Homo sapiens: one gene and its partners. The protein of the gene in region 4 interacts with the protein of the main gene of each other region in a pairwise test. Each region holds a gene or a part of one and is shown on either strand. Other genes may lie near its edges. The genes, in order: GAK, UTP14A, AKAP9, USO1 and GABPB1.

Region 1 (3,518 bases), about 75 Mb from region 4:
GCTGCGGTCCTGAGGGAGGCGGCCATGGAGAGCTGGCTGCCAGGCGAGAGGCACTTACCCAGGTGCAGGAAGTCGGCGCTGCAGGATGGGGGCGGAGCACTGTGGGCAGACGGGAAGGATGGTGGGACGGTCACAGAGTCCGAATTGAGAAATTCGCCGAAGAGATCAGGATTGGAGCAGGGCTGGGAGTTGTTGCCTGAAGACGGCAGAAGCGGGCCAAAGGGGTCAGCTGTGGGGACAGGCGGGCATGGGGAGGACTCAGCCCGGCTGCCTGAAGACAAAGGAGCCCAGCTCTGGAGTCAGGCCTGCCCAAGAGGCCACTCCAGCTGGGCAGCCCAGACCCCACGGCTGCCCTCGCAGGGGCACTGAGGCAGTCAGCCCAGGGGCTCCCCGTGCCCCACGCCTCAGGATGACTTTCCCAGGGACACAGCAACACTGCTGAGATGGAGAAGCCAGTAGCTCCCGGCCCGTGAGCTCAGGTGGGCAGCACAGAACCCTGACATGACCCCGAGGCTGCTCCTGGGGGAGGTGGGGGAAGGGCACGTTCCCTTCCTGCAAGCACCTTCGAAACACGCCCATGCAGTGAGAATGACTCAGCCTCATCACTCATCTACTGTGAAGCCACTCGCCTTCAGAACAGAAACACGTACCAGCGGCAGGGGGCCCTCCTCTTGGGGTGCTCTGCACGCTCAGGGGAGGGGCCGGGCTTGCCAGGAGCAGCGGGTCCTCGCTGAGCAGATCCTCCGGGGGCCCCTGGGAGGCGGCCTCAGGGGGCCCAAGGAGGCAGCTGAGCAGGTCGGTGTTGCTGGAGGGGGCCTTGCAGGCCTGCGGGGGTACAGCTGGCCCTGCGCCCACCTCGGAGTGCAGGCCCAGGAGGTCGACCCCGTCTTCCTGTGGCACAGGCTCTGGCAGCACAGCCGGTGTCTCCACCTCAAAAACCAAGTCCTGCTGCACCAGCCCTGCTGCCAGGCCGGGGGGCTCTGGGTCGGCCCTGGGTTCCTGGCCCTCGCTGGAGATCGGGGATCCCCCTTCATCTGACACCTCACTCTCGTCTCTGTCCTCCATCAGGGCAGACTCGCTCTCCTTGGAAGAGGCATTTTCTGCACCAGTCTCTGCCTCCTTCTCTTCTGCGAAAAGGAAACAAAACCACAGGCTAGTGAGACCACACGGCCAGCACCAGGGTCCCCACGGCGCGTCCCTTCAGGGCCTCCTCGGCCCAGGGCCTTGGTGAACACACGTGGCCAGCACCAGGGTCCCCACGGCGCGTCCCTTCAGGGCCTCCTCGGCCCAGGGCCTTGGTGAACACACGTGGCCAGCACCAGGGTCCCCATGGCATGGCCCCTCGGCACCTCCTCGGCCCAGGGCCTTGGCAAGTGCTGCAGGAACACCAGGGTCCCCACGGCGCGTCCCCTCAGCCCAGGGCCTTGGCGAACCCACATGGCCAGCACCAATGTCCCCATGGCACGGCCCCTCAGCGCCTCCTTGGCCCAGGGCCCTGGCGAGTGCTGCAGAAGCTTCTGGGCGGGCGGTGGGGTGTTGTTCCTGAGGCGTCTCCAGCACACCCACCTCCAGCCTCTGCCTCAAGGGTCTGCCTGTGGCTCTCTCCGCCTGGGCCTCTGCGGTGCCTCAGGCTGAGTCAAGTGGGGGCCACATGGCAGCACTAGGGGGTAGGAACACCAATCAAGGGTGCTCTGGGAACAGGCGGCAGAAGGGACGAGCCCGATGGGAAGGCCAGGGGTGCTGGGACAGGAAGTGGCAGGTGCATCCCTTGGGGTGTGTCTGGGGTGAGGTCCAGTGATGGCGCCCAGGTGTTTTCCTGAAAAGCCTCAGAGGGGCTGGGAGCCCACTGGGGGTGTGGGCAAAGAGAGGTGTGGGATCCCCAGGTGGTGACAGTCTGTCCCTCCGCCCAGGCCCTTCCCCTGTACCCAGGGGCCCCGCCAGCATGGCCCATGCTGCCAGCCTCCCCAGGCCCACAGACTGGGATGAAGAGCGAGGGTTGTTATTTCAGACTTTGTGGGCATGTTCTTTTTTTTTCACCTTTAAAAAGATATGAAATCATTCTTAGCTCGTGAGCCATTAAAGAACAGGCTGACATGCCGGGTGCACAGCCCCACTGAGGTGCAACTCAGCTCTGCCGGAGGCCCGTCTCCCAAGACGCTTGCCCTGCCCCAGGGGCACCTCCAGACCAGGGGCCTGCCCTCTGCAAGTGGCCAGGTCCAGGGACGCTGCCTACCCTGCCAGTCCAGCGTGTGCAGGAAGCGACTGGCGTCCGCGCTGCTGCTTGGCGGTGAGTCAGAGTCTGTGGGTTCGGCTTCCGGGGACCCTGCCCCAGCATCATACTGAGCCGTGGAGCCAGGCTGCCGGGGAAGCTCCGGCTTCCCTGCAGGAGAGGGAGGGCGTCAGGGCACTGGCACTGGCCAGCAGCCTCGGGGCAACACTGACCCCAGAGCTGGGAAGTGCAGCCAGGCGGGCGCCAGCACCGTGGCAGGCCAGGCCATCGGTAAAGCAGACCAATGACATGACGGGGAGGGGCTCTCTGAACAGATTCCTGCTATCCACTCGGATGCCACTCTGGGCCATGCGTGCACACTTGGGCACAGCACACGCACACATGAACACGCACAAGGAACCCACCACTGAGGCATCAAACGCCACACATATGCAGGGTACACATGAATGCACACACACAGCTGCACGGTACACACGAATGCATAGAGCACACACACAGGCGCACAGTACACACAAATGCACACACACAGATGCAGGGTACACACGAATGCACACACAGCACACACAGATGCACAGTATACACGAATGCACAGACAGCACACACATAGATGCAGGGTACACATGAATACACACAGCACACACAGATGCACAGTACACATGAATGCACACACAGATGCATGGTACACACGGATGCACAGACAGCACACACACAGATGCAGGGTACACATGAATGCACACACAGCACACACACAGATGCACAGTACACATGAATGCACACACAGCACACAGATGCACAGTACACACGAATGCACACACAGCACATACACACATGCAGGGTACACACGAATGCAAAGCACACACAGATGCACGGTACACATGAATGCACACACAGCACAAATGCACAGTACACAGGAATGCACACACAGCACACACAGATGCATGGTACACAGGAATGCACACACACAGATGCACAGTACACACGAATGCACACACAGCACATACACACATGCAGGGTACACATGAATGCACACACACAGATGCACAGTACACACGAATGCACACACAGCACATACACACATGCAGGGTACACATGAATGCACACACACAGATGCACAGTACACACGAATGCACACACAGCACATACACACATGCAGGGTACACATGAATGCACACACAGCACACACAGATGCACAGTACACATGAATGCACACAGTACACACAGATGCACAGTACACACGAATGCACACACAGCAGAGATGCATGGTACACACAAATGCACACACACAGGC
Region 2 (3,518 bases), on a different chromosome or scaffold from region 4:
GTACATGTGTCCAAAGGCCAGATCTAAGGAGCTACAATGGCTTCATGCCAAAGCTAGACAGCAGGATCAACTTGGGAATGGAGGCAACTTGAGTCAATGAAAAAGACAGTTTAGAAGCATGTCACTGCCAGGTTTCCCTCCAGACTGTTTTGAGACAGGTCTCTGTCATACAGGCTGGAGTGCAGTGGTGCAACCTCGGCTCACTGCAAGCTCCACCTCCCAGGTTCAAGCAATCCTCCTGCCTCAGCCTGCAAGTAGCTGGGATTACAGGCATATGCCACCACGCCCAGCTAATTTTTGTATTTTTAGTAGAGACAGGGTTTTGCCATGTTGGTCAGGCTGGTCTCAAACTCCTGGCTTCAAGTGAATCACCCATTTCGGCCTCCCAGAGTGCTGGGATTACAGGTGTGAGCCACTGTGCCAAGCCAGCCCCTCCAGACTCTTGAGACTAGTGTTATTTGCTCAGATGTTGCCAGTGAAAGTGTGAGCTACATCCACTGGATAAAGCAGCTACTTCATCCCTTGACTCAGCCACAGCAGATTATGAAATACTGCTTTAAGATATGGAGTAGAAATTCTTGAGTCAAGATGAAAATCCTGGATAGGGTTTTTACAAGCAGTGAAGCATAAATTACAATGAAGTTACATTGAGAAGCCACCTGTTAAAGTGGCTTCCTTTTTTAAAATTTGGAACTTGGGGCAATCTTCCCAAGCAGGGTTTACTGCACGAGGAACTTAAGCCACAGTCCCAGTTATACAGTGGATCATTGGCAAAGCTGGGAATAGGACCCAGGACGTCTGCTTCCAATATGCTACTTTTTTTTTTTTTTTGAGACGTCTTGCCCTGTTGCCCAGGCTAGTATGCAGTGGCACAGTCACAGCTTCCTGCAGCCTTGACCTTCTGGCTCCAGCAATCCTCCCAGCTTAGCCTCCCAAGTAGGTGGGACTACAGATCCACACCGCCATGCCTGGAAATTTTTTGTTGTTGTTGGAGGGGTGGAGGTGGTAGAGATGAGTTCTCACTATGTTGTTCAGGCTGGTCTCGAACTCCTGGGCTCAAGCTATCCTGCCCCCTTGGCCTCCCAAAGTGCTGGCATACAGGCGTGAGCCACCATATCCAACATCTCACATGCTACTTTTTTTTTTTTTTTTTTTTTGAGACGGAGTCTCGCTCTGTCACCTAGGCTGGAGTGCAGTGGCACAATCTCGGCTCACTGCAACCTCTGCCTCCCTGGTTCAAGTGATTCTCCTGCCTCAGCCTCCTGAGTAGCTGGACTACAGGCACATGCCACCATGCCCAGCTAATTTTTTGTATTTTTAGTAGAGATGGGGTTTCACCGTGTTAGCCAGGATGGTCTCGATCTCCTGACCTCATGATCTGCCCGCCTCGGCCTCCCAAAGTGCTGGGATTACAGGTGTGAGCCACCGCACCTGGCCACATGCTACTTTTAATTACCAAACTCCGTTGCCTGCTATGATTAGTGTACTGTCTAGGAGATTCAATGTACAGAATCTTCTTTTCCCCGTTTGTCCTTTTTATAATGTCTTATGTGGTACCTAGCACTTGGTGGGTGCTCAACAAATGCTTACCGACCAGACAACGTACAAACCTCATTTTCTGACAGTTTTCATTCTTTTTTCCCCCAGATTCTGGCAGCCAGGAGGTGCTGTCTGAATTGAGAGTACTATCTCAGAAATTGAAGGAAAACCATCAGTCCAGGAAGCAAAAAGCAAGTTCAGAGGGGACTATTCCCCAGGTCCAGAGAGAGGAACCTGCCCCAGAAGAAGAGGAGCCCCTGTTGCTACAGAGACCAGAGAGAGTACAGACGCTGGAAGAGCTAGAAGAGCTGGGAAAAGAAGAATGTTTTCAAAATAAGGAGCTTCCCAGACCTGTGTTAGAAGGGCAGCAGTCAGAGAGGACCCCAAATAATCGCCCTGATGCCCCTAAGGAGAAGAAAAAGAAGGAGCAAATGATCGACCTACAGAACCTCCTAACCACACAATCTCCCTCCGTGAAGTCTTTGGCAGTTCCCACAATAGAGGAGCTGGTGAGCAGAGCCAGGGTGGTGGGCCATTGTTCAGAAAGTGTCGTTCTTGCGCAAGGAGTAATGAAGCTTTGTTTTGCTGGGGGCACATTTCAGTAGTTTAGAGGTCCAGAATAGTATAGGGCCAGGCTAGTCCCAGTGACGTTTTAATAGATGCAGATATATGGGTGCTGCCAAGACCCCTATTTCCGAAAGCCTGATCCACAAAAACTCCTCTGGGGTGACTCTAAAACTGCTCTCAGAGGTAAGAGGGAGTAACTCAGAGTTCTGACCAGATCCCAGGCAGGACAACTTGAAGGTGAGTCATTGAACTGTTGCGAAAGTTTTATTCAGTGGGATCTCAGATGGTCTAAGACTCCCCAGTTAATCTGAAACTTAAAGTGAAGCGTCCTGGCACCTGTCTTTTCAGGGATATAAGCTGGAGGAAGCCTACAGTCTGGCCACTTAGAGCTCCTGCTGCTAACACGGGCCATTCCTTCCTCCACCCTGCAGCTTCCTTACTGAAAAGTTTAAAATTGTGTCATATGATAATGAGCTAGGGATATTTACCCTAGAGGGAAGAAAATTTGAGCATGATTGGCTGTGCACTGGTTTGTATCGCAAGACCATCATTGTTCAGCACTTCCCCCTAGGGGGCGCTAAAATGTCACGACCCGAAATTCAAGCGTTCTCGCCATGAACCACAGCTCATAAGCCAAGCTGTAGCTCTCGCTTGTTTCTTCCCAGGAAGATGAAGAGGAGAGAAACCATAGGCAGATGATAAAGGAAGCTTTTGCTGGGGATGATGTCATCAGAGATTTCTTGAAAGAGAAGAGGGAAGCTGTGGAGGCGAGTAAGCCAAAGGACGTGGACCTGACACTACCTGGCTGGGGCGAGTGGGGTGGTGTGGGCCTAAAGCCCAGTGCCAAGAAAAGACGCCGGTAAGAATGCCGAAGAAAGTCTGTCAAAAGGGCACCGGGTTCTCCCCTCGCCCTTCGGTGTCCTCCCTACCCTTTTGACTAAGTCCTTAATGCTCCTAGTCAGATGTCCTGTTGTTTTGCTTTCCAGGTTTCTCATTAAAGCCCCTGAGGGTCCTCCAAGAAAAGATAAGAATTTGCCAAATGTGATTATCAATGAGAAGCGCAACATCCACGCAGCTGCTCATCAGGTGAGAGCTTAGAGAGCTCTTTAGCTGCCTGCTTGTTACTGCCTGGCTCTCTTGCTTGAGAGGAGTATTCTAGTGATCTGTAGTCAAGAGAGACGTGTGATCTTGACCGCAGAATCAAATCTGTTGTTTTCACTGAATGGCTGTTAGATTTATCATTTCAGATAGACTACGCTGTTTTAATTACTGGCCAGGAAAAAAGTTTAGAGTCAAGGTAATGCTCAAACAGAGGCTATAAGGTTTAAGCTGTAGCTTAAGAAAAATGAAGACAAACCGGTACTTGTTCAGGAGAATGAGAAGATTGTAAGTTGTGTCACATGATAATGAGC
Region 3 (3,518 bases), on a different chromosome or scaffold from region 4:
GTTTCTGTAACTTTCAGCCAAAACTCATTATTTCATATATAAACTCCTAGTAGATATTTCCTAATGCAGTTTTAACATATTTTCTAATATCTTGCCATTTAGAAGAAGATCTACTAATTTATTTGGCTCTCAAGAAATGGAGTAGAGGATATAAACGGCGTAAGAATTAACTGAGATCTCTGCCCCATGCCCACTGCAATCCCCACAAGGTCTCCACACACAAAATTTGATTCATGATACATATGGAGAACTACTATTTTAGTTATAATTGATCCCTGTCACTATCTTCTCTGGGGAAACAACTAATAAGGCAATACTAACTTGAATAAAAGTGAGACCCTAGCCTGGACGTTGTGGCTCACGCCTGTAATCCCAGCACTTTGGGAGGCCGAGGCAGGCGGATCATGAGGTCAGGAGATTGAGACCATACTGGCTAACACAGTGAAACCCCGTCTCTACTAAAAATACAGAAAAATTAGCCGGGCTTGGCAGCGTGCACCTGTGGTCCCAGCTGCTGGGGAGGCTGAGGCAGGAGAATGGCGTGAACCCGGGAGGCAGAGCTTGCACTGAGCCGAGATAGTGCCACTGCACTCCAGCCTGGGTGACAGAGCAAGACTCTGTCTCAAAAAAAAAAAAAAAAAAAAGTGAGACCCTGGAGGAATAAATACAGCCTAACCACAGAGCCCACAATGAGCAATCCTAGTAAACAACAAGGAATTTTATAGTGTGTTCAGTACTAATAGGAGAGAGAGCCTAGATTTTATACCCTATTAGTTTTTCAGAGATCTGTAAATCAGAGAACCTATGAAATCAATCTTTACAGATTAGGACTTTGTATAGTAAAGTTGATTATAGTTCTGAATCATCAAAACAATAATCTTGGGGGCTTTAAGAAATTATTTCTTAAAAGGGGGAAAAACTCTTAGACTTTTACAGAGAAACTTTCACACCACACAAAAATCTCAGAGAACAGTAAACCACAATAAGAATCTTAACTCTGATGGTAACTGAAAACAAACACTACATTGTTAGTGAACAAGGAGGAAAAAGGAATTTTACATATTACAAAAGAATCTATAAATTTAAACAAAGAACCTAAGCAAAACTACTCCTGAAATAATGTTAAATTTTTGAATACTCTGAATATTGAACACTTTTGAATACTGTTAAACCCATGCAAAAATCAACCAAAGCTTTATGCAATGTACCTAGAAGGGCACTAAGTGTTGTAAGTTACAGTTTGGTGATGACTAAGACAAAAAATAAAAGGGGTGTCAATATGACAACAAAGACATCTCATACTAGTGAAGTAGCTACAGATCCCCCATGTTTAAAATGACAGGTCTTTTCATTTTTGAACACTAAGTTACTTTTTTCTCACAGTGTAAATGGACTGGCAATGATCAAGCCAAAAATCCAACAGGTGCCCCTTTAACCAACTGCATGCACTTGTAAAACAGCTGCTCATGGAATGGAATGACTCACTGGCCAACAAAGAAATCAAGCTTCAGCATCATGCTGTTATCAACTCACCAAGAACCTATCACTCAAAGGAAGCAACAATTTAAATTTTGGCAAAGCCCAAAAAGCCTAAAAATATATATATATGGAAGATAATCCCACTGGGGATACGTATTTCTACCCATTCCTCTCTGGTGCTTGAGTGCACACGTTCTCTCTCTCTCCACACATACGGAAAGGATATATATATATTTTATATACATATATAATTAATATTAGATAAAAGAAGTTGGTAACAACCCAATTAAAAAATGGGCAAGGGATATTAATAGACATTTCTCTAAAGAAGATCTACAAATGGGCTAGGCGCAGTGGCTCAGGCCTGTAATCCCAGCACTTTGGGAGGCCGAGGTGGGCAGATCACCTGAGGTCAGGAGTTCAAGACCAGCCTGGCCAACATGGTGAAATCCCATTTCTGCTAAAAATACAAAAAAATTAATCGGGCATGGTGGTGGATGCCTGTAATCACAGCTACTGGGGAGGCTGAGGCGGGCAGATCACCTGAGGTCAGGAGTTCAAGACCAGCCTGGCCAACATGGTGAAACCCCATCTCTGCTAAAAATACAAAAAAATTAATCGGGCATGGTGGTGGATGCCTGTAATCCCATCTACTAGGGAGGCTGAGGCAGGAGAATCACTTGAACCCAGGAGGTGGAGGTTGCAGTGAGCTGAGGTTGCGCCATTGCACTCAAGCCTGGGAGACAAGAGCAAAACTCCATCTCAAAAAAAAAAAAAAAAAAAAAAAGAAATCTACAAGTGGCCAAAAAGTGCATTAAAAGATGATACTCAATATCATTATTCATTAGGAAAATACAAACCAAAACCACAATTAGAAACCACTTAATACCCACAAGGATGAGTATTAAAAAAACAAAAAAACAAAACAAACAAACAAAAAAAACAGAAAACACAACTGTTAATGAGGTTATGGGAAAATTGGAATGTCCTATACATTGCTGATGGGAAGGTAAAATGGTACAGTCACTATGGAAACAGTTTGGCAGTTCCTCAAAAAGTTGAAATATAACTACCATATGACCTTGCTCAGTTCTACTACTAGGTATATACCCAAGAGAAATGAAAACAGGTACTCAAATACATCCATACAAATGTTCACAGCAGCACTATTCACAATAGCCAAAAGACAGAAACAACCCAAATGCCTATCATTGGACAAATTATGGTATATACATACAATGGAATATTATTCAGCCATAAAAAGGAATGAAGTACTGATATATGCAGCAAAATGGATGAACCTTGAAAACATACTAAGTGAAAGAAGCCAGACACAAAGGGTCACATATTATATGATTCCTTTCATATTAAATATCTACAACTGGTAAATCCAGAGAGTGCGTTGGTGATTGTTAGTGGCTAGAGGGAAGAAGCAATGAAGAATATCTGCTTAATGGGCACAGGGTTATATTTTGAGATGGAAAGATGTTTGGGAAGTAGACAGAAGCAGTAGTTGCATAAGATTGTGTTAAGCCACTGTGTTAAGTTCACTTAAAGATGGTTAATTTTGCTTATGAATTTCACCTCAATTAAAAAAAATTATAGCTTCTTTATATCTAGCACCTAGAGAACTCAAAAAGCTCCCAACCATTATTTCATTTATCCTTCAAAACACCTGTTGAGGTACACATCATAAGATTATTCCAACAGACAATAAGGCACAGAATTTGTGATCATTTAAATAAATGTTTGCGGCCGGGCGCGGTTGCTCACGCCTGTAATCCCAGCACTTTGGGAGGCCAAGGTGGACGGATCACAAGGTCAGGAGTTTGAGACCAGCCTGGCCAATATGGTGAAACCCTGTCTCTACTAAAAATAAAAACCTAGCCGGGTGTGGTGGTGGGCGCCTGTAGTCCCAGCTACTCGGGAGGCTGAGGCAGGAGAATAGCTAGAACCCAGGAGGTGGAGGTTGCAGTGAGCCGAGATCGTGCCACTGCACTCCAGCCTGGGTGACAGAGTGAGACTCCATCTCGGGGGGA
Region 4 (3,518 bases):
GACAGGATTTAATGTGCCTATGTTCCACGGCTTATGGAAAGCCTACATGTGGCTTGTGTATTAGCTAAATTTGTACTCCTTGTTTTGTTATTGTGATTAGATGTTGATCTTAAAAAGAAAACACAGGCCGGGTGTGGTGGCTCACGCCTGTAATCCCAGCACTTTGGGGGGGGCCAATGCGGGCAGATCACCTGAGGTCAGGAGTTTGAGACCAGCCTGGCCAACATGGCGAATCCTCGTCTCTACTAAAAGTACAAAAATTAGCTGAGCATGTTGGCAGGTGCCTGAAATCCCAGCTACTCAGGAGGCTGAGGCAGGAGAATCGCTTGAATCTGGGAGGTGGAGGCTGCAGTGAGCTGAGATCATGCCACTGCACTCCATCCAGCCTGGAACACAAAATTGAGACTCTCTCTCAAAAAAAAAAAGAAAAAGAAAGAAAGAAAACAAAAATATTTTCAATAAATTTTACTTTTATAGTACATGCATATGTATGCTTATCTTACATATTATCATTATTTGAAATAGTATTTTAAAAGCTTCATTTGTGGCTGGGTGCGGCAGCTCACACCTGTAATTCCAGCATTCCAGCACTTTGGGAGGCCAAGGCAGGTGGATCACGAGGTCAAGAGATGGAGACCATCCTGGCCAACGTGGTGAAACCCTGTCTGTACTAAAAATACAAAAATTAGCTGGGTGTGGTGGTGCACGCCTGTAGTCCCAGCTACTCAGTAGGTTGAGGCGGGAGAATTGCTTGAACCTGGGAGGCAGAGGTTGTGGTGAGCCGAGATCGCGCCACTGTACTCCAGTCTGGTGACAGAGCGAAACTCCATCTCAAAAAAACAAAACAAAACAAAAAAACCCAAAACAAAAAAAATTTTCATTTGTGCCATCTTAAATCATCAATATAGGAGTGAAAATGTTGTGAGATAAAATTACACATCATTAGCTTTCTTCATAAATCTAAGAATTTGAAAGATATATAAAATTTCCTAGAGTTCATTTCATATCATATGCAGTAAATAAAAGTTGCACCAAAAACAAACCTTTAACTCTTTGGTCTCTTGTAATAATGCTGACAGTCTTCCTTCTACATCAGTAGTTTTGGTGGCTATTATAGTCTCGGTCTCTCCTTGTACCTCAACTGATTTTGCCTGAAATTAGAAATTGGAAAAAAAGATGTCTCTTAAACATTACAATCAATATGAACTCCCAAAGGGTTATTTAATTTTTTTGCCATTTTGATATTTTACTTTCACTAACAGAAAATATAATTCCTTATGTATTTATGTGCAACAAAGTGCTCTCCACTGTCAGATGAGCTGTTCCCACATGGAAGAGCATCAAATCTCATAAGAGTACGAGGAAGGCTGGGCTAAGGTGCCTCAAGGTAGGTAAGCCCAGAAAAGTAATCAGCAAGGCAGCTCTAATGTAACTGTAACCCAGCATTTAATAAACACAGAATATTTTTCAAAGCCTTTCCTTCATAAATTTCCTATAAGTCCATACTACCACCCTAGATAGGTAGATAAATTGAGCCAAATATCATTATTAGTGAAATGCAAATCTTTTCTCAAGTGCTAGAGGAGACACTCCTGAATAACAGTTTTTCAGTCTTTCCTTGTCTTTTTTCTAAAATACTAGGAAGTCGGGTAGTGACACAACAAATATCTAAAAATGTGGAAGTAGCTTTGGAACTGTGTAATGAGTAGAGGCTGTAAGAGAGGTGCATGGTAGACAAAGCCTGCATTACCTTGATGAGACTGTTGCTAGAGATATGGACATTAAGTGATTCTGGTGAGAGCTCAGAAAGAAAAGAGCGGAGTTGGAAAGAAGCTTCATGGTCATAGTGAGAAGAAGAATGCTGGCAGAAATATGAATGTTAAAGGTGCTTTTGGTGAGGTCTCAGATGAAAACTAGGAACATGTTACTGGGAATCGGAGGAAAGGCAATCCTTGTTATAAAGTGGCAAATAACTTGGCCAAATAGTGTTGCAGTGTTTTGTGGACAGCAGAACTTGTAAATAATGAATTTGGATATTTTACTGAGGTTTCTAAGCAAAGTGTTGGAGTGCAGCCTGGTTTCTCCTTGTTGCTTAAAGTTAAATGTGAGAGAAGAGAGATAAATTGAAGAAGAAATTGCTAAGCAAAAAAGAATCAGAATTAGAAGATTTGGAAAATTCTCAGTCTACCTATATTGCAAAAGTATGAGAAGGAATGTTCTGGAGAAAACAACAACGGTTTCTGAATATTTTATGACAGCAGAAAAACTGCCAGCTTGGACTGAAGGGACAGAAATAGAATGTAATACCAGCAAAATAAACTATTAAGTAACTGAATAAACTAATCTGGTGAGACTGACTATAAAACGACTGTCACCATGAACATGAAGCCTATGTTACTAGAATACCGGCTAGTAAGTAATCTAAAGAGAAGGTGCTATCTGATGAATTTGTTTCTTTTTAATTGTGGCTAAGAAATAATACATCAACCTTGTCTTTATTACCTTCCAGAGAAAAAAGAGAAAATACTTACAAACGCTTCTGTTTTCTGTAACAGTTCCTGCTTTTCTGTCTGTAGTTTGGTGATCTCCACAGATTGTGAGTTTAACTGAGACTTTAAAGTTGCCAGTTCCTAAGAGACAAAAATAGTTGAGTCATAACATTAAATGGTATTAAATTCATCAAGGAAATATTTACAGGGAGACATTTAAAAAAATGATTTACAACCTCCTACTTTTAAAATCTAACTCTAAAGAACTATTCTTGAATTTTGGGTTCAAGATGGAAAATTCAACACATTCATTTACCTCTGCTCCCTCCTGAAATCCCATGCAAAAAAAAAAAATCATAAAAGACAGGAAGGGAGGGGAGAAGGAAGAAAGAAAGGAAGGATGGGAGGGAGAGAGGAAGAAACCTACAAAAACAAGAACAGTAAGAGAAGAGAGCAATATAATTGGGGAATTTTGAGAAAGCAAGTAACAGTGATAACTAAATCAGCACACCTGAGAAAGCTGAAAGCTAGGATGACCACTGAGAAAGTTAAGATAGTACCTGACTTACAATGAATGCATTAACTACCAGAAAGGTTAGGAACTGGTATCATTAGATACCACTGGAAGTACAGATAAAAATGAGGTTAAAAACTGCAGGCCTGGTTAAAAGACTATTTAAGAAATAGATCATCAGATCCCTGTCTCAATCTTAGGCATCAGGCAACCGTTCCTCCTTTCCTGGATGAAGACTTGAGGTTTATTATGTGGCTGGGCAAAACAGGACATCTTTAGACTAGGGACCACCAAACACAGATGAAAGCAGTAGTACTATAATGAAAACCAGGGTATTAATTGAAAGTTTTTATTAATGTTGAATTTCCAAACTTCTCACCTTCTCCTCCCCCAAAAAAAGTACAGGAAAAGAAAGGCAATTATAACAATGGCTCTCAGCAGGAGTGATTTCTCCCCATATCCCCCCATCCCCGAGGACATTTGGTAATGTCTGGAGACACTGAGTAAGTGGTGGG
Region 5 (3,518 bases), on a different chromosome or scaffold from region 4:
TCTGCTTCCTGTTCTTTCTTTAGGAGCTGCTGTCGATATTTTTGTGCTTCTCGATTTGCTTCATCCAGCTGTTTCTGAAGAGCTTCTCTCTCCTAATTAAAAGAAGAGGGTTTTTTTTTTAATTTTTGCAAAAATACATTATTAATACATATAAGCATGCATCCTTCAAATTAAAAAAAAAAACCGTAGTAGCTAAAAGCAGCCACCTATTGAAATTTCCTAGACATCTTGCCTTTTCAATCAATTCACTAACATTTAAGTCCCTAATTTTGTGCTCCACATTATGAGATATGGATTAATTTCTGACTGCAAGGAAATTATTTTCCTATTTAGAAATAAGACTAACAGAAAGACTCCAAACTGGGCACCTGTACTTTTATATGTACTACAAAAACTAGTGAAGAGTTTTTAAGAGGGAAATATACAACCATACCTCTTTATATTTCCATTTGTGGTGCTCTTACCAAAAGGTAATAATTATAAAACAATTTTACTGAGCACCCACTATATGAGTAAACAGGGTGATTTCCAACAATAAGCATCTAAGACAGATATTATGCACAAGTTAAAGATGAGAAAAATGATGCTCAGGGATGATGTAGCTCTCCCAAGGTCACATAGTAAGAAGTTGGATTTATAGGGTTCTAACATTACTGCTTTTAAAACTATTTTCATTTACAATAGCAAGCAAGATAATTCACCTTTAAAATGAAGAGTGCTGATCAAGATCAGTATTTCCTAAATTATACTATTTCATAAACCAATAAAATACTAAATTATCAATGATTAAATTATATAGGTATAAAATATATGCATTAAATTCCTCAACAAATTGAGAGCTGAAACACAAATCCAATCCAATGAAAACGGTATTGTTTCTCCTCTTCCTCCTCACTCTGCCCCATTCAGTTATTGCAGGAAAAACAAGGAGAAACATTTCAACGAACCCATTCCCACACCTCTAAGTGAGCACAAGGACAAAAGCTCAACCTCCACAGACCAAAGCTCAAGGGTAGTTTCCAGGTCTTAGGAATGAGGCAACCTCATCACAGATGCCCAGGACCTCTGAGTGGGGTGAAGGCCAGGGGTCGGACTATCACAAGAATGATAGGTCCACAGTGGACAAGACACTTGGCCAGAGAGAACTAAAGGTAAGTGGTTGGCCGACCACTGGGGAGGCACAGTATGAGATTCTCTTTCTATATATCCTATTATGTATATCCTCTGCCTCCTTGACTCCTGCCCATTGTGAACACCAAAGGATTCCTCACCTTCTCTATTCATATGGTTGGTCCACAAGCAGGAGCATGTATAATCCTCCTGCCTTTCTGTGATTCCACTTCCTTCCCCACAATGGGAATGAAGCTAGATCCAACATTTCTTTTTCTCATGGGCCCACCAGATGTGGGAGTGATTCATTTGGAGACAAAAGATCTCCAAATCTTCCAATTACACAAAATGTACAAGTAGAAGAAAGGAATGTCCCTTACTCCCAGTTTAAGCAATGCCCAGGCCCTATCCTGCTGCCTCCCAACACTTCTTCTCCCCTCCTCTTATCCTAAATCCAGCCAAGATAGGAACAAGTCAGAAAAGACAACCTAGGATGAGTCCAAGGTAAGCAATCAATGCCAGTACCCTGGCTACAAACTGTGCAGGACTTTAAGGACACCAATGGAAGGGGTGAGGGGTGGAAGGTTGGATGTTACTTCCCAGGAGCTAGACCACAGCTCTGGCAGGAGTGTCCACAGCCATGCACGTGTTTTAAAATTTTACGTGTGGCTGGGCACAGTGACTCACACCTTAATGCCAGCACTTTGAGAGGCCAAGGCAGGCAGATCACTTAAGCCCAGGAATTTGAGACAAGCCTGGGCAACATGGCAAAACCCCTACAAAAAATACAAAACTTAGATGGGCATGGTGGTATGCGCCTGTAGTCCCAGCTACTTGGGAAGCTGAGGCAGGAGGATCACTTGAGCCCAGGAGGTTGAGGCTGCAGTGAGCAACTCCACCGCACTCCAGCCTGGGTGACAGAGCAAGACCTTGTCTCAAAAGAAAAAAAAAAGAAAAAAGAGAAAACAAACAAAAACTTACATTATGTGAAAAATAAGAGCAATCCTTTGGTAGCCAAAGTTTTGAATATGGGTATAAATTTACCTTGATTTAGCAGGAAATATTGGAAGAGGTTAACTCTAAAGCATCTTCTAGTATTACCTATTTATTAACATTTAGAGTCAGGAAAGGATTCACAATTATTGCAGAAGATGAAAGCAAACCGAGTGAGGTAGTCTAACAGTGAAAAGAACCTAATCCTATTTTCCATACTGCATATTTTAACTTCAAGAAGTACAATTTATCTTGATAAAAATGAAAAGATAGTTTCCTTCTGCCTACCAGGTGAAATAAAAAACTCATTTTCACAGCATTTTTTGGCTAATTCTATAAAACCTAGAAGACAAAGATCATTAGCACTGCATGCTGAATACATTTAATCTTTAAGATTGAAAGTATAATTAACACTATAATTTTTTTTTCTTTTTGAGACGGAGTCTTGCTCTGTTGCCCAGGCTGGAGTGCAGTGGCATTATCTCAGCTCACTGCAACCTCCACCTCCCGGATTCAAGCAATTCTCCTGCATCAGCCTCCTGAGTAGCTGGGACTATAGGCGCACGCCACCATGCTCAGCTAATTTTTTGTATTTTTAGTAGAGACGGGGTTTCACCATGTTAGCCAGGATGGTCTCAATCTCCTGACCTCGTGATCTGCCCGCCTTGGCCTCCCAAAGTGCTAGGATTACAGGCGTGAGCCACTGCGCCCGGCCTAAATGTTTTTTAAAAGAGAGAAACTGGGCAGGATATGTGAGCTATTTGCTTGTGTGTAAACATCAATTTTCTAACTGCCCTGAGCCAAATATGACAAGTATGATTTTGTTTTTATAAATAAAGTTTTATTGAAATACAGCCACACCCACCCATTTTCAAATTGTCTATGGCTGCTTTCACTACAATGGCAGAATTGAGTAGTTGACAGACTGTAGGGCCCACAAAGCCAAAAATATTTGGTACCTGGCCATTTATGAAAAAAAACTTTGCCTTCTCCAGCCTTAGAAAAAAGAGATATAGACTGGGTGCTGGGCATGCAGTGGCTCATGCCTGTAATCCTAGTATTTTGGAAGGCCAAGGCAGGTGGATTGCTTGAGCCTAGGAGTGAGAGACTAGCCTGGGCAACAGGGCAAAACCTCATCTCAAAATCCTGACCTCAAGTGATCCTCCCACTTCAGTCTCCCAAAGTGCTGGGATTACAGGCATGAATTACCATGCCCAGCCACAAAACCTTATCTCTACAAAAAAATACAAAAATTGGCTGGGCATGGTGGTGTAGCCTGTAGTCCCAGCTACTCAAGAGGCTGTGAGGTGGGAGGATTGCTTGAGCCCAGGGAGGTCAAGGCTGCAGTGAACTGTGATTGCACCACTGCACTCCAGCCTAGGCAACACAGTGAGACCCTGTCTCAAAAAATAAAT

What was found.
Region 1: the proteins of USO1 (region 4) and GAK interact in a two-hybrid assay, tested with the Homo sapiens proteins (one large-scale study listed by BioGRID and IntAct).
Region 2: the proteins of USO1 (region 4) and UTP14A interact in a two-hybrid assay, tested with the Homo sapiens proteins (one large-scale study listed by BioGRID).
Region 3: the proteins of USO1 (region 4) and AKAP9 interact in binary tests that used the Homo sapiens proteins (3 or more experiments, as listed by UniProt).
Region 5: the proteins of USO1 (region 4) and GABPB1 interact in a two-hybrid assay, tested with the Homo sapiens proteins (one large-scale study listed by BioGRID and IntAct).

What each region holds. Positions count from the first base shown.
Region 1 is NC_000004.12:866,306-869,823, forward strand, and holds part of GAK (cyclin-G-associated kinase), read right to left. Parts: intron 2,381-3,518; coding exon 2,234-2,380; intron 1,128-2,233; coding exon 651-1,127; intron 230-650; coding exon 59-229; intron 1-58. UniProt on the Homo sapiens protein: Associates with cyclin G and CDK5. Seems to act as an auxilin homolog that is involved in the uncoating of clathrin-coated vesicles by Hsc70 in non-neuronal cells. Expression oscillates slightly during the cell cycle, peaking at G1.
Region 2 is NC_000023.11:129,923,148-129,926,665, forward strand, and holds part of UTP14A (U3 small nucleolar RNA-associated protein 14 homolog A), read left to right. Parts: intron 1-1,647; coding exon 1,648-2,048; intron 2,049-2,771; coding exon 2,772-2,965; intron 2,966-3,092; coding exon 3,093-3,192; intron 3,193-3,518. UniProt on the Homo sapiens protein: May be required for ribosome biogenesis.
Region 3 is NC_000007.14:91,947,354-91,950,871, reverse strand, and holds part of AKAP9 (A-kinase anchor protein 9), read right to left. Parts: intron 1-3,518. UniProt on the Homo sapiens protein: Scaffolding protein that assembles several protein kinases and phosphatases on the centrosome and Golgi apparatus. Required to maintain the integrity of the Golgi apparatus. Required for microtubule nucleation at the cis-side of the Golgi apparatus.
Region 4 is NC_000004.12:75,808,065-75,811,582, reverse strand, and holds part of USO1 (general vesicular transport factor p115), read right to left. Parts: intron 2,631-3,518; coding exon 2,532-2,630; intron 1,152-2,531; coding exon 1,044-1,151; intron 1-1,043. UniProt on the Homo sapiens protein: General vesicular transport factor required for intercisternal transport in the Golgi stack; it is required for transcytotic fusion and/or subsequent binding of the vesicles to the target membrane.
Region 5 is NC_000015.10:50,278,693-50,282,210, forward strand, and holds part of GABPB1 (GA-binding protein subunit beta-1 isoform beta 2), read right to left. Parts: intron 93-3,518; coding exon 1-92.